Linked DNA regions of Homo sapiens. The protein of the gene in region 2 interacts with the protein of the main gene of each other region in a pairwise test. Each region holds a gene or a part of one and is shown on either strand. Other genes may lie near its edges.

Region 1 (6,002 bases), on a different chromosome or scaffold from region 2:
TGTTTGGGGTCTAAGACGGCAAGATGTGAGTGTGTTGGTCACAGATGCAGCCCAGGATATGCTGCTGGGCCTGGCTGAGGCTCAGCTGTGATTCCATTTGGGCCCTGATGCTGTCCCCACCCCGTGGGCACCAGGGTCCAGGGCTCTCAGCCTATGGAGATTTCTTTTGAATAAACTTAGTCTATTTGCAATTTAAGAAAAAAAAAAGTCATGTTTTGCCCACTCTAAAACATTAAAAAGGAACAAAAGAGTATAGTATAGTAGAAAGTTGTCCTCCATACCCCCTGTCCCCCACCCTCAGTTCCCTGCCTGCAAGGCCATGTTAAGAATCCTTCCAGAGATATTCTTTGCATATATAAGCAAGTGCTATTAATGTATGTTTTGTTTCTGTCCCCACACGGGACTTTCTTTGCAGAGTACGGTGGAAGACTCCCCTTGTGGGTTCCCTTTTCTGTACAAGTCAACAATTGGACAGACCAGGGATTTCCATACTGTGTTCCCAGAAGCCTTCGGGTTGGCTCTGGTGTCCCCACCAATTCACTGATTCAATAAACATTTAATAAGCCCCTTCCCTTCCCCAGCAGCTTCACCTCTGTGACTGCCTGGGAATGTGGGCGACAAGGTTTGCTGCTGAGAACAGTTTGAAAACCAGCAAAGCAGGTGGCCCAGGGCCCAGGCAGCTCTGCAACACCCCTGTGGCTGCTTGGCTCTGCTCTGTTGCCTCAAATGACAGGAAACTCACTATTGCCTGAGGCAGGCCATCTCTCCTGTGAACAGCTCAGCTGAAAAACTCTTAACCTACCCTGAGTTACAATCTGCCTCCCTATAATTTCCACCCACTGATTCTCCATTCTGCCCTTAGAGGGCAGAGTGCTGACAGGTCCACGACTTGGTCCCATTTTACAAATGAAGAAACTGAGGCTCAGAGAGACAAAGTTTTAAAACATTCCTGTTAACAGGGCCAGAACCCAGGAAGGGATATGCTTTTCTCAGGAATAATGTCAAAATTAATATAGCTTCCCAGTCAATGAGGACTATATAAATTACTATTTGCAAAGCACTAAGAACAGTGTCCGGCACAGAGTCAGTGCTATGTAATGTAGATGTGAGAATGAGAGAGCCTGAGATTTTATGTTTGCGAGTCCCACAGGAGGCAGGGCAATGCCAACTCCCTGTTGCTTGGAAGCAATGGGCAAGTCTATGACCCTCCTGTTGAGGCCCTGTTACAGGTAACCAAGCCCCCACGGAATGGAGCTGAGGAGCTCCTGAGAATGGGCTTGTCCGGTTACTGTTTGGATTCAGAACTGACCTAAGAGATTCAGAACAGACAGACTCGCCTTGGCCTGAGTTGCCTCTGGGCTCTTGGAATGTCCACAGCAAGTCCATTCCTCTCCTTGGGCCTCAATTTACCCACCTGTAAAACAAGAGGATTGGACCACATAAGAGATCGGAAGCCACCAGGGTTTCTCTTTTTCTCTTTTATTTGAATTAGTTGACAAAACTTAAATCTTGGGAGATTTTACCCAGAAAATCATCTCCCCAGCCCCACCTGAGATCTGGTAATAGCAGGCGTACGTTTTGCATGGCGCTGAAGACCAGGTAAACGCCCCACCAGCTGCCTCCTGTGTGTGCTACCTATAGGCGCCTGTTTGCTACCCGTGAATGAGATGGTTTCTGTGGATGTTCCCAGCTCCGCAGTTAAGTAGAGCACATCCTTCCCCTTGCACCTTTTTTTTTTTTTTTTTTTTTTTTTTTTTGGAGACTGAGTCTTGCTCTGTCTCCCAGGCTGGAGTGCAGTGGCGCGATCTTGGCTCACTGCAAGCTCTGCCTCCTGGGTTCACACCATTCTCCTGCCTGTCTCCCAAGTAGCTGGGATTACAGGCCCCCGCCACCACGGCCGGCTAGTTTTTTTTATTTTTAGTAGAGACAAGGTTTCTCCATCTCCTGACCTCGTGATCCGCCTGCCTCGGCCTCCCAAAGTGCTGGGATTACAGGTGTGAGCCACTGCGCCCGGCCTCCTTGCACCTTCTGAGTGTCCCTGTCTCGGAGCTGGCAATGCAGAGATGGATGTAGGAAAGCCCTGCCCCCGAGGGGCCCAGATGTGGTGGGGATCTGCTGCACTTCGGTAGGAAACTTCTTTGAGATCTCTATCCTGGACTTGAAGGATGGGTAGGGTTTCTGCCAGGTAGAGGGGAGTGTAGTCTGGTCTTGCCAGAATCAAAACTGTTAAACAGAAGTCATCCCTCAGTGATCATCAAGGTTGCCTTCCTAAATTAGGGAGACTTTTTTTTTTTATTGTCCATTCTTTCATGAAATCTAGGCCACCTTTCCTACAGGGCTGAGGTCTGCTTACTGGCTGGCAGATCCAGCCATTTCCCGAGTATGAGACTGGGAGTCGGTAGGCTTGGATTTCTGTCTGGCTCTCACTCAGGAAGACTGAGTGATTTCGGGCAGATTACTGTCCCCCTGGACCTCAGTATTTCCTTGCAAATGTTAAGATGGCCATGTAAATGTTAACAAGTAATTCTCTCATTTCTCTCCAGAGGGCTGTGGGTGGGTTTGGAGGGGAGAAATGGCATCTCCTTTGGCCTGGGACCTCCTCCCCTCTTTTACCCTCCATGCTGCCTCTCCTCAAGGGCTTCTGGAGTCCCCAAGTCAAATGGCAAATGGGGAAGAGAAGACAGGGTATGGAGTACAAGAGGCCTAGATCCTCTATAGGTCTGATCTGGCTGGTGCTGCCCCTAGCCAGTAAAGCCACCCTCCAGACCCCTTCAAGCCTGTTGTAGCCTTAACCAAGATCAACCAACATGGAGGTGACTGATCTTGGTTAAGGCTGCGACCAACATGGAGGTAATTGATCTTGGTTAAGGCTACGACACGTTTCCCTTTAGAGAAAAATCATGTTTTCCCCCTCAAAAAATCATGCGTTAATTTCCTCCAACCAAACTAAGTCCCAGGACTACTCCGAAAACTACTCAATGACCATCTGGGCATTTGTACATGGGTTTCCATTTCTTGGATGCCTGCTCTCCTGTTACCTCCCAGAAGCCTGTGAAAAAGGCAAGGCATATTACTTCCACTTAACGGAAGAGGATGCTGGGGCGAGGTGGCAGGAAATGACTGGTCCAAGACCTTACAGTCAGGAAATGTGGAAACGGGTGCTGCTCTGGGGTTCTGAACTCTTGGCCCTGCTTAACCCTGGCTTCTCAGATCTCTGATGCTGGTCTCTTCTCCCCAGGTACAATGGCTTGGTGACCGGCACGAGGGCTAAGGGCATCATTGCCATCTGCTGGGTGCTGTCGTTTGCCATCGGCCTGACTCCCATGCTAGGTTGGAACAACTGCGGTCAGCCAAAGGAGGGCAAGAACCACTCCCAGGGCTGCGGGGAGGGCCAAGTGGCCTGTCTCTTTGAGGATGTGGTCCCCATGAACTACATGGTGTACTTCAACTTCTTTGCCTGTGTGCTGGTGCCCCTGCTGCTCATGCTGGGTGTCTATTTGCGGATCTTCCTGGCGGCGCGACGACAGCTGAAGCAGATGGAGAGCCAGCCTCTGCCGGGGGAGCGGGCACGGTCCACACTGCAGAAGGAGGTCCATGCTGCCAAGTCACTGGCCATCATTGTGGGGCTCTTTGCCCTCTGCTGGCTGCCCCTACACATCATCAACTGCTTCACTTTCTTCTGCCCCGACTGCAGCCACGCCCCTCTCTGGCTCATGTACCTGGCCATCGTCCTCTCCCACACCAATTCGGTTGTGAATCCCTTCATCTACGCCTACCGTATCCGCGAGTTCCGCCAGACCTTCCGCAAGATCATTCGCAGCCACGTCCTGAGGCAGCAAGAACCTTTCAAGGCAGCTGGCACCAGTGCCCGGGTCTTGGCAGCTCATGGCAGTGACGGAGAGCAGGTCAGCCTCCGTCTCAACGGCCACCCGCCAGGAGTGTGGGCCAACGGCAGTGCTCCCCACCCTGAGCGGAGGCCCAATGGCTATGCCCTGGGGCTGGTGAGTGGAGGGAGTGCCCAAGAGTCCCAGGGGAACACGGGCCTCCCAGACGTGGAGCTCCTTAGCCATGAGCTCAAGGGAGTGTGCCCAGAGCCCCCTGGCCTAGATGACCCCCTGGCCCAGGATGGAGCAGGAGTGTCCTGATGATTCATGGAGTTTGCCCCTTCCTAAGGGAAGGAGATCTTTATCTTTCTGGTTGGCTTGACCAGTCACGTTGGGAGAAGAGAGAGAGTGCCAGGAGACCCTGAGGGCAGCCGGTTCCTACTTTGGACTGAGAGAAGGGAGCCCCAGGCTGGAGCAGCATGAGGCCCAGCAAGAAGGGCTTGGGTTCTGAGGAAGCAGATGTTTCATGCTGTGAGGCCTTGCACCAGGTGGGGGCCACAGCACCAGCAGCATCTTTGCTGGGCAGGGCCCAGCCCTCCACTGCAGAAGCATCTGGAAGCACCACCTTGTCTCCACAGAGCAGCTTGGGCACAGCAGACTGGCCTGGCCCTGAGACTGGGGAGTGGCTCCAACAGCCTCCTGCCACCCACACACCACTCTCCCTAGACTCTCCTAGGGTTCAGGAGCTGCTGGGCCCAGAGGTGACATTTGACTTTTTTCCAGGAAAAATGTAAGTGTGAGGAAACCCTTTTTATTTTATTACCTTTCACTCTCTGGCTGCTGGGTCTGCCGTCGGTCCTGCTGCTAACCTGGCACCAGAGCCTCTGCCCGGGGAGCCTCAGGCAGTCCTCTCCTGCTGTCACAGCTGCCATCCACTTCTCAGTCCCAGGGCCATCTCTTGGAGTGACAAAGCTGGGATCAAGGACAGGGAGTTGTAACAGAGCAGTGCCAGAGCATGGGCCCAGGTCCCAGGGGAGAGGTTGGGGCTGGCAGGCCACTGGCATGTGCTGAGTAGCGCAGAGCTACCCAGTGAGAGGCCTTGTCTAACTGCCTTTCCTTCTAAAGGGAATGTTTTTTTCTGAGATAAAATAAAAACGAGCCACATCGTGTTTTAAGCTTGTCCAAATGAGAATGGCGTCTGAGTTCGTTTCCTACTCCATAGCTAGGCCTGTGCACACATACAGGCATGTGTTGTGTATGAGAGAGTGTGTGCGTATGTGCAGACACCCTGCCTGCCCCGGGGGCCCTCCCCAGGGTCCTGTCCTCGAGGGGACAGGCTGCCTGGCTGCACCACAATCCAACCTGCATTTCTATGAGGGCCCACAGGGGCTATGGGAGAAGGGGCTTTCCCCAGCAACTCCCCCCCTCCTTATCTTCCTACATCTTTAAGGGAAGATCTCTTTGTATGTTACCTTCTCAGAACTGTGACCCGCCACCTGCCCTGCTGCACCCTTTAGCAGAGGTCACAGAGGTATCCGCAAACAGATCTGGGCAGGGGCTACACGGCCTTCCCCTAGAATCCCCCTCCTTCTGTTCTTAACAAAAGAAACCCAGAAGGAAGGGGTGTTTTTGCTCTGACCCCGGCCTTAGGGGCCTCCTGCCTGAGGAGGTGGTGCCATCTTTCTGTGATGGCGAAGTTTGAGGCCTGGAAGGCAGTTAGCAACCTGCCCCTGCCTGAGGTTGGTGGAGAGCTGTGATTGTCCCGGTTTGGTCTCACTCACTCTGGGACTCCCGGAAGGAGTGTAAGAATGTCAAGGGTAATCCTCACACAGCCCTGTGAGCCCTGTTTTACAGATGATTAACAAGCCCAGAGAGGTTACATGATTGCTCCAGGTCACACAGCTAGTAAGTGGCAGAAGTGAACTTAAAACTCAGGTCTGTCTGACTGTAAAATCCATGTTCATTGTTTCCATTAACTTAATGATGAACTATTTGAACCGAACCAAAAAGTACAAAATAACATCATTTCCTCAGCACTCTGCTTAAGAACTGAAACATTACAATGTTGCATCTGACCCCTGCCCATCATTACCCTGCATCCTAGGCCTGGAAACAACCACTTTCCTGAATTTCATTTCTTTCCATTGCACTTCTTCTTCTTCTTTTTTTTTTTTTCTT
Region 2 (8,260 bases):
CACTCTGCCCAACACTGGCTAAGACTTTCTGCTGCTTCAAAGCTAATGTGCTAGAAACAGCAAAAACCATAACCGATTCTTCTTTTCAGTATTATTTAAGATTTCTTAAACCCTGGAAATCTGTCTGTTGCCCCCAAAAATAATTCACTGCTATTTGGCTTTGAAGCAATACTCACTCATAAACATGACTTAAGGATTTTGGGTTATTTGGGGAAGGAGAGAAATTGCAAAATCACCTATAATCATATTGCCTCTTCCCTTAAAACCTCTTGCATGGAGTTTCTAATGACTTGTATCTCTTTTGCCACACCTTTAAACCAGATTTCATTAACTCACAACGAGAACACCAGCTCAATTATTAATGACCTAAATTAATCTCCCTATGAAGTATATTCATGATTTATATATTTTATTTATGGTGCTCAAGTTTTTCCTATATAACAAAACATAATGGAAAAATTGAAATATATGTACAATGTCACATATATCTTTATGAATGCATAGGCAGTCTCTGGGGTACAAGCTGCAACAGTACCCCACTCATGAGGCTCAGGTTGACTCAGGAGCCACCGTGACAATACCGAAGCATCCGCTCAGAAGCAGTGAAAGACAAGCAACAAAAATTTGTTACTTGGCCATTAGAGGAAGCAAAATTTTCTTTTTTTTTGAAAAAAAGCTGCCTTGAATTCCTAATCACCATATATAAATTTCACAGCTCTTTGAAACTTCTATAAAATCAACTTCTGTCCCTCCTGGATTTCAAAATACTACTTATCTTTGTCTTCTTTTATAATACCCAATAGGTCACCAACATTTATTAAATGAATGGTTAAAAATATGCTGAATTCTAGATAACCAGCTTACAGATGACCCTTTGAGAAGCAACCTACACCGGACAGCACATTTCATAACTAATGGATAATGCGGTTTAAACGGTGTCCTTACTTCTAACAAGAACCACGATGAAAATAGAGGAACCACAGTCGTCAGTGTCCTTAATTCCTTACTATATACAATAAAGTATGAGTTTACAGAAGTGAATGTATATACTTCAAATGCTCCTTTGGTCCAAATAGTTCTGGACTCTCTTGACAGGATACAAGACAAAACAAAACTCCCATTGTCATGTGCTTGCTACCATACCATCTACTTGCAAAATAACTTTCGTAGTGCTTAGGCAATCAATTATTCTTTCTTCAGTTTTAGAAAGAAGAAATCAACAATATTTTGCTCTCTTCATCAACACATCTGAAACTACTAGAGTTCCCAACTTTGGCCAATAGTTTGTAAGCACTGATAAGGATATGTAACATTCTCGTGTAATTTCTAAATAAGTTTCATTACTTCTAACCTCAAGATTATCATTTTTGTCCTTTTTCCTAAGATAAAAAGACAAAAATGTAAAATAGGTTATAAGGACCCCTAAAAACATAAGGGAAATGAAACCTAAGACTTAAATGTGACTGTGGAATACACAATCTATTTTAGCATACTGCGGTAAGCCACTGGTATAAAACATATCGACTTGATTGAACCCTCTAGAGGTGACTTTTGGGGAAAAAATGAAAAATCTAAGATGAAAATATTCTGAAGTTTCATATTATAAAGGATATAAAACACACCAGTCTGACTTGAAAGTTGACAGAAGTAAAATTTATTAAATAGGTGCAAATTCTAATAGTGCAATTAAGTATGGCTCACTAGATTAGAAACCTTTAAGATAATTCACTATTCTAACTAAAAGCACCCCAGAAAACTGATGTTAAAGTAATTTTACATTCCTTATGTATAATGGTTAGAGGAACTGCAAACTAAAGGAAGTTGCATTCTTCTGTTTTTAAAATTTAGACTATTCAACCTCCCTTTACATTTGGCTAACATGTAAAAAAAAAATCTGACAGTTATTTTAGATTTAGTTAAGAAAAAAATTCTACAAAACTATCAATGAGGCTATTCTAAAATCACTATTTAAAATTTTGAAAACACTATGATTGAACCAAGAGAACACAAGAGGAGGTTTTAGGACCAAGTAAAGGACCATACTTGAGGTATTATCACGTATACTTGACAATATTCAAGAATCATACTTGATAGTGTTCGGATTTTGCAATACTTTAAACTTGCATCTAAAAGACAACTTGTTGATGGATCTTGGCTCGATTTCAAGAACCTATCTAAATATCATAAACAGCATTTTAAGCTGATTGGAAAAAAACAGACAAAACTTAAGTAAAATGGAATTCTCTAAAATACTTTCTCGGAATATCGGAGGAGGGCTAAAAACAAAGGAAAAAAAAAGAATCAAAACAAAAACATGAGAGTACTATGTTTTACCACTGTATTCCAAACCACTATGCTGCTCAAGTAAAATTTACTTTACCTCTTCCCTTCACTACTGCGTGCTTCATATCAACTGAATGTGGCAGCTACCCACACAAGTGTTCAATGGGCATGTGAACGCAACGCTGTGCCATTTCCCTCTCCACATGTTCTCTAGGGTTAAAACTACAGTTCCTTTAAATCCTCGTGTTTCATTTTCCTTTTCACAGAAATCCTGTAATGACCCTAAAGCAGATAAGAGCAGAGCGGCCTCTACACCCAGGGATAAGGAGCACGAGCAATCACTAGGTGCCAAGGAGTTTGAAACGGAGCCCGGCGGAGTGGGACAGGGGAATCCACTACGGCTACCGGGGCCAGGCGAGTGTCCTCCGCGCCGGAGCCGCAGAGGACCGCGGCTGCTCCGGCGCCCGCGCCAGGACTTCTCCCACCTCGCGCCCCGGGAGACTTACCTGCCCAGCCAGGGGCGAGCGCGCCGGGCTGGCCCGGGGGAAAGCCCCGCTCACTCTCCACTGCGGGTCCCCGGGGCCGTTACCTAACTGGTCCCAGCTCCAGGCCAAGAGGCCGCGCTTCAGGGAAGGGCATGCGCTCGCCGGCGACGCCCAAGCCCCGAGCCCCGAGCCCCGAGCACCGGCGCCCGGGAGTCCGCTGGGGCCCGCCTCAGCCCCCCGCCGCGCCGCCGCCGCCGCGCGCCCCCAGGCCCCGCCTCCACCGCCCAGCCCTCCATCCTCCTCAAGCCACCTCCTGCCCACTGCGGCGCCTCCTCACCTGCCCCAGCCGCCGCCGCCCGCGCCTCCCCCGGGCCTCCCCGCGCCGCGACCCTAGCCCCAGCCCCAGCCCCAACCCCAGCCCCAGCCGCCCCCGCCCCCCTGCCGCGCGCTCGTCCCCAGCGCGCCCCGCTCCTCCTCATCTGCCCGGGCCCCGAGCTTTACCTTGTAGGAGTCGGTGGCCAGGAGGATGTTGAACTCGGCTTCTGCCGCAGGATTCATCTCGGGCCGGAGGACAGGGGCCGCGCGCCGCGAGCTCCCTGGCGCGGCTGCGAGGAAGGAGAAAAATGAGCTTCACCGCGCTCCGTTGCTTAAGTCACTGCTCGGTCGGCGGAGGAGGGGGAGAGGGGGAAACGGAGAGAGGGGAGGGGTCAGAGGAGGGCGGGCCCGGGAGCCGTGACGCGGCGCGGGTGACGGCTGCGGCGGCTCGCGTGCTCGCAGTCTGGGAGCTCTGGCGGACTCCCCACCTCGGTTCCCCCGCCTTCACCCCGTCACCCTCCGGGGGCCGAGAAAGGGCGGGGCGCGGCAGCGCGCTGCGCAGTGCGCGGAGGCGGGGCGGGGAGGAGGACGTGATGCACGCGCTCTTCCTCCCAGACGCCAGCTCTGGGAAGCTGGAGGCAGCGGGGCAGCCCCGGCGCGTGACCCGGGCGCTTACCTAAGTTCGAGTTCCCGGCACGGGCGCGGGAGGGCGGGGCCTGGAGGGGGCGTTCCCAGCTTTGCCAGTGCCACGAGGAGCCGGTTCGCCCGCCCCGCCTGGGACCTTCCGTCCTACCCAGTCCTGGCCGGTTTTCTGGGTCCTCCTGAAGTCACGCCACCCGGCTAGGGGGCGAGGAGCCTCCTACTGCCCATCTTCCCGTCCACCACGCGCAGTTACTCACCTTTGTCTCCGGCCTGGATTAAGGATCCAGCCTTTCGCCTCCATCCCTCTTGTCCCTCCTGATCCTCCTGACCCTGTCTTTAAGATCCCAGGAGCTGCGGTGAGGAGTGAGGCTGAGGGGCCCCTTTCATCTGATGCAGCGACTCCGCTTTCCTCCGGCGGCTCTGTCTATGGCTGAGCTCTTTGATCCTTTGAGAGATGGTTTGACTTTTCCCGAGCAAAGAGCCTGCGTTGAAAAGCGGGGGTGGAATTCAGTCCTCACAGATAATGAGGGGACAAGACCTAATTGAACCGAGTATTGCCGGGAAGGAAAAGGCAACGGGCCAAGCCTTTGACAGGGTGCGACACTGACTTTTATCATCGTTATAGTCTTTAAATCCTGGGAAACGAGTTGGCAACCCCAAAATAAAGAAGTGTAATGACGTCTGATGACTTCACCCAAATACAGACCATTCCAAGAAAGACTTGCGCAGTTCTCATGCGTGGTTGCGTTTTTGCATAAAACTAAGATTCCCTTTGTCCGCATGTTTAATAGCTTAAAAATAAATTGAGGTTTTTATCGGATAAAAGTAGCCAGGAAAAAGTGATACAGTGAAAACGATTACAGGATATTTATAGACTTGTCTTTCAAGTTATTAGAAGTCTCATTCTATCTGGGGGCAGTGATGGTGGTGGTGGTAGTGGAACTTGTGAATTGAGATTCATAGTGGAACTTGTGAATTGAGATTCATCTCGAAACTGGAGGCATGGCTGAGACTTCTAATAAAGACAACCTCAGTCAACACTATGTCTTGAAGTCAGTATATATTTTTGACAATCACCTCATCTACACGTAGATACAATACAGGGCAAAGATCATGGAAGTGGAAGGTATCACCAGGCACTCACCAATGTAGTAAATACTAGTACACTTACAATTATTTTCAGCAACGAGGTTTGAAACAAGAGGGCTTATGTATTTATTGGTTGATCTTCCCTGTGTTTTACCGGGGAAAATTATTTGTAAACGCATTTAAACAAATTATTATTTCTATTTTGAGACGGAGTCTCGCTCTGTCGCCCAGGCTGGAGTGCAGTGGCTGGATCTCGGCTCACTGCAAGCTCCGCCTCCCTGGTTCACGCCATCCTCCTGCCTCAGTCTCCCAAGCAGCTGGGACTACAGGCGCCCGCCACCACGCCCGGCTAATTTTTTGTATTTTTAGTAGAGATGGGGTTTCACCGTCTTAGCCAGGATGGTCTCGATCTCCTGACCTCGTGATCCTCCCGCCTCGGCCTCCCAAAGTGCTGGGATTACAGACGTGAGCCACCGCGCCCGGCCTAAACAAATTATTTTTTAATATTTGATTTTGGGAGTTTTTTTATATTATTTCAAGGAGTGCAATTCAAAGAAGGAAAAAGATAATTTTTGTCCTTAATTTGGTGTTTTTTCCTTCATTTAAAATTTATATAACCTACTTTACTTATAGTACAAATTCTTATTTGTTTAGCTTCCTGGAATTCATGTATCTATAAATGACCGTTGTTCTATGCTGCTTTATGCAGAAAAGAAAGTAGGATTCTGATTATAATGTGGGCTTTGTTTATGGTAGTATTTTTTTAAGATGCAAAATTTGATCTTGCAATCTTTGAGTTGAATTTGCAGTTTTAAAATAAAAAGGTCTTATATCTGTGCAAAGAAAAAATATTGTATTGACATTGCTTGTTAAATTAAGGAGTGAGGCCTGCACAAGTATTAGTAATGTGAATCCTCACAGTAGTCTCCAGAGAAAAAAAATGACAATGAAGTCATGTTACCAATAGGACAATCACCATTTGCCTGAGATAGAAATAGGCACATTCTCTATGTAACTACATGCTTAAGCTGGAGCAATTCAGAATTAATTGGGGTTTAGAACTATGAAATTATCACTGAAAACAGAGCCAAGATTTCATTTTAAAATGGCCTCCCCTGAAAGACAGTTTAACAGCTAGCATTAAGGTTGGACGTGGTGGCTCACACCTGTAATCCCAGCACTTTGGGAGGCTGAGGCGGGCTGATCACTTGAGCCCAGGATTTTGAGACCAGCCTGGGCAACATGGTGAAAACCCATCTCTACAAAAAATACAAAAATTAGCTGGACGTGGTGGCATGTGCCTGTAGTCCCAGCTTCTCTGAAAGGAGACTGACGTGGGAGGATTGCCTGAGCCCGGGGAGGTTGTAGCATGTAGAGGACCTGAGAAACTGTTTTTCATAGGTCACAACAACATGACAAATAATAACACATAGACTCAAATGGGCCCCCTCACTTGATTCAAAGCCCTGGATTATTATACCATCCTACCAAATAGCAATCAGGCACTGCCAATTGGGCATGCAGCTCCTTGTCTCCCTCCCTCAGAGTGCTATGAAAGACCTAGGGCTCATATATTTGTTCAGGCAAAGTGAGTGTATCTGTGCCACTCCTGTTGCCACACACCCTTGCAGACAGCCTCGGGTGCACCTTTATATTTCAAAGTTGCCTCAGATACTCCAATCTGACCTGATTTGACCTCAGTAAAAAACACTGGTGAAGTAGGTATGGAACTCACCTACCTGCAACCCCTGACGATGGTCTTATCCATCTCCCTTTATAATCTCCTCTAGACTCGCCAATTAGCAACAGTTGTCACAAAGACAAATGTGAAAAAGAGAGCTTTTAAAAATTAAACTTGGACTTTTTTTCTTATTCAAACTTCCAAGGCCCTTTGGGAACCTCCCAGAGTTTTAATTTCCTAGGGAAAGGCCTCATCCACAGAAAGACACGGTCTTCACAGATTCAATGATTTATCAGTGTTACACTCTGTAATGACTCAGTCGGCTAAGCCTGTACAATCACACAAAGAGAGGCACAGGAAACTATGGAGTCCTCGTCTAAATGTACAAAAATGATAGAGCAACTGTCATCCACACACAGTAAGAATGAGTGCACATATATAGACTATCCACAGACATTCCATTGCAAAATGTAATTATGCCCTTTCTATGGTGTCTTTGTGGTCTGACTGTGCTGCACTCTCCTAACCGGCAATGCTGAGTCGATCATCTATCTGACTTGAAACTGTCTTCAAATTTCACACAGGACGTCTATCGCAATCTATGTTTGCTGCATGGCAAGTCTCGATTTTCCCGTCTCTATTAGTTGTGTTTTTGTTTTCCATTATATTCAAGCATACATTTTTCTAATTCCAACCAAATTCAATGGGAAATAAAGATAAACAAAAATAAAAGGTTTAAATTCACCTTTAAAAGTAAGGTAAACATGCACATTATGATGCCACATGTGGGGATTCCAATGTCATCATTACTTACAAATTTTGCTAATGGCCCAAATTTAAGAGTTGCTAGCCCATATCAATGACTGAGAGAATAAGACCGTTTGAAGTATATAGGAATGTCAAGAGCTTTGAAATCAGTGTTTTCCTAAGTGAGGTCTGCTTATCATTGATGTACATGAAATAACTATCAATGGTACTAAGATACATGTTTTTGTCTTTAATAATTATGTACTTATCTTAAATGAGTTTTGTTTTGTTTGTTTTTTGAGATGGAGTCTCGCTCTATCACCCAGGCTGGAGTGCTGTGGTCCGATCTCAGCTCACTGCAACCTCTACTTCTCAGGTTCAAGTGATTCTCGTGCCTCAGTCTCTTGAGTAGCTGGGACTACAGGCATGTACCACTATGCTTGGCTAACTTTTATATTTTTAGTAGAGAAGGGGTTTCACCATGCTGGCCAGGCTGGTCTTGAACTCTTGACCTCAAGTGATCTGCCCACCTTGGCCTCCCAAAATGCTAGGATTACAGGCATAAGCCACTGCCTTTGGCCTCTAATGAGTATTTAAAAATGTAACTAGCACATAAAACCTGATTTTTTGTGGGAGGGGTATTATTACTTAGGATGAAGCTGAAGGAGGTGGGCACTCAGACTGGTGAACTTTCTATTTCTTTTTCTTACCTTTCCCTAACCTATATGCTGTTTTCACATCCTCCATATAAGACTGGTTTTCTTGAGGAAGCTGAACATGAAAGGCTATATGTCTGATTCCATTTATTTGAAATTCTGGAAAGGGCAAAGTTATAATGAAAGAGAGCAGATCAGTGGTTGTCAGAGACTGGGATTATGAGAAGCAGAATGACTGCAAGCAGGTCTGAGGAAACTTCTTGGGGTGATGAGAATGATATATGTGGTTATACGACTGTATACATTTGTCAAAATTCACTGAATTCTAAGCTTAAAGTTGGTGAATAGCATATAAATTAGAT

What was found. The genes of interacting proteins can lie anywhere in the genome.
Region 1: the proteins of NAMPT (region 2) and ADORA2A interact in a two-hybrid assay, tested with the Homo sapiens proteins (one study listed by BioGRID and IntAct).

What each region holds. Positions count from the first base shown.
Region 1 is NC_000022.11:24,437,345-24,443,346, forward strand, and holds the end of ADORA2A (adenosine receptor A2a), read left to right. Parts: intron 1-932; exon of another isoform or gene 933-1,414; intron 1,415-1,949; exon of another isoform or gene 1,950-2,223; intron 2,224-3,238; coding exon 3,239-4,145; 3' UTR 4,146-5,013; downstream 5,014-6,002. UniProt on the Homo sapiens protein: Receptor for adenosine. The activity of this receptor is mediated by G proteins which activate adenylyl cyclase.
Region 2 is NC_000007.14:106,281,559-106,289,818, forward strand, and holds the start of NAMPT (nicotinamide phosphoribosyltransferase precursor), read right to left. Parts: upstream 3,426-8,260; 5' UTR 3,327-3,425; coding exon 3,270-3,326; intron 1-3,269.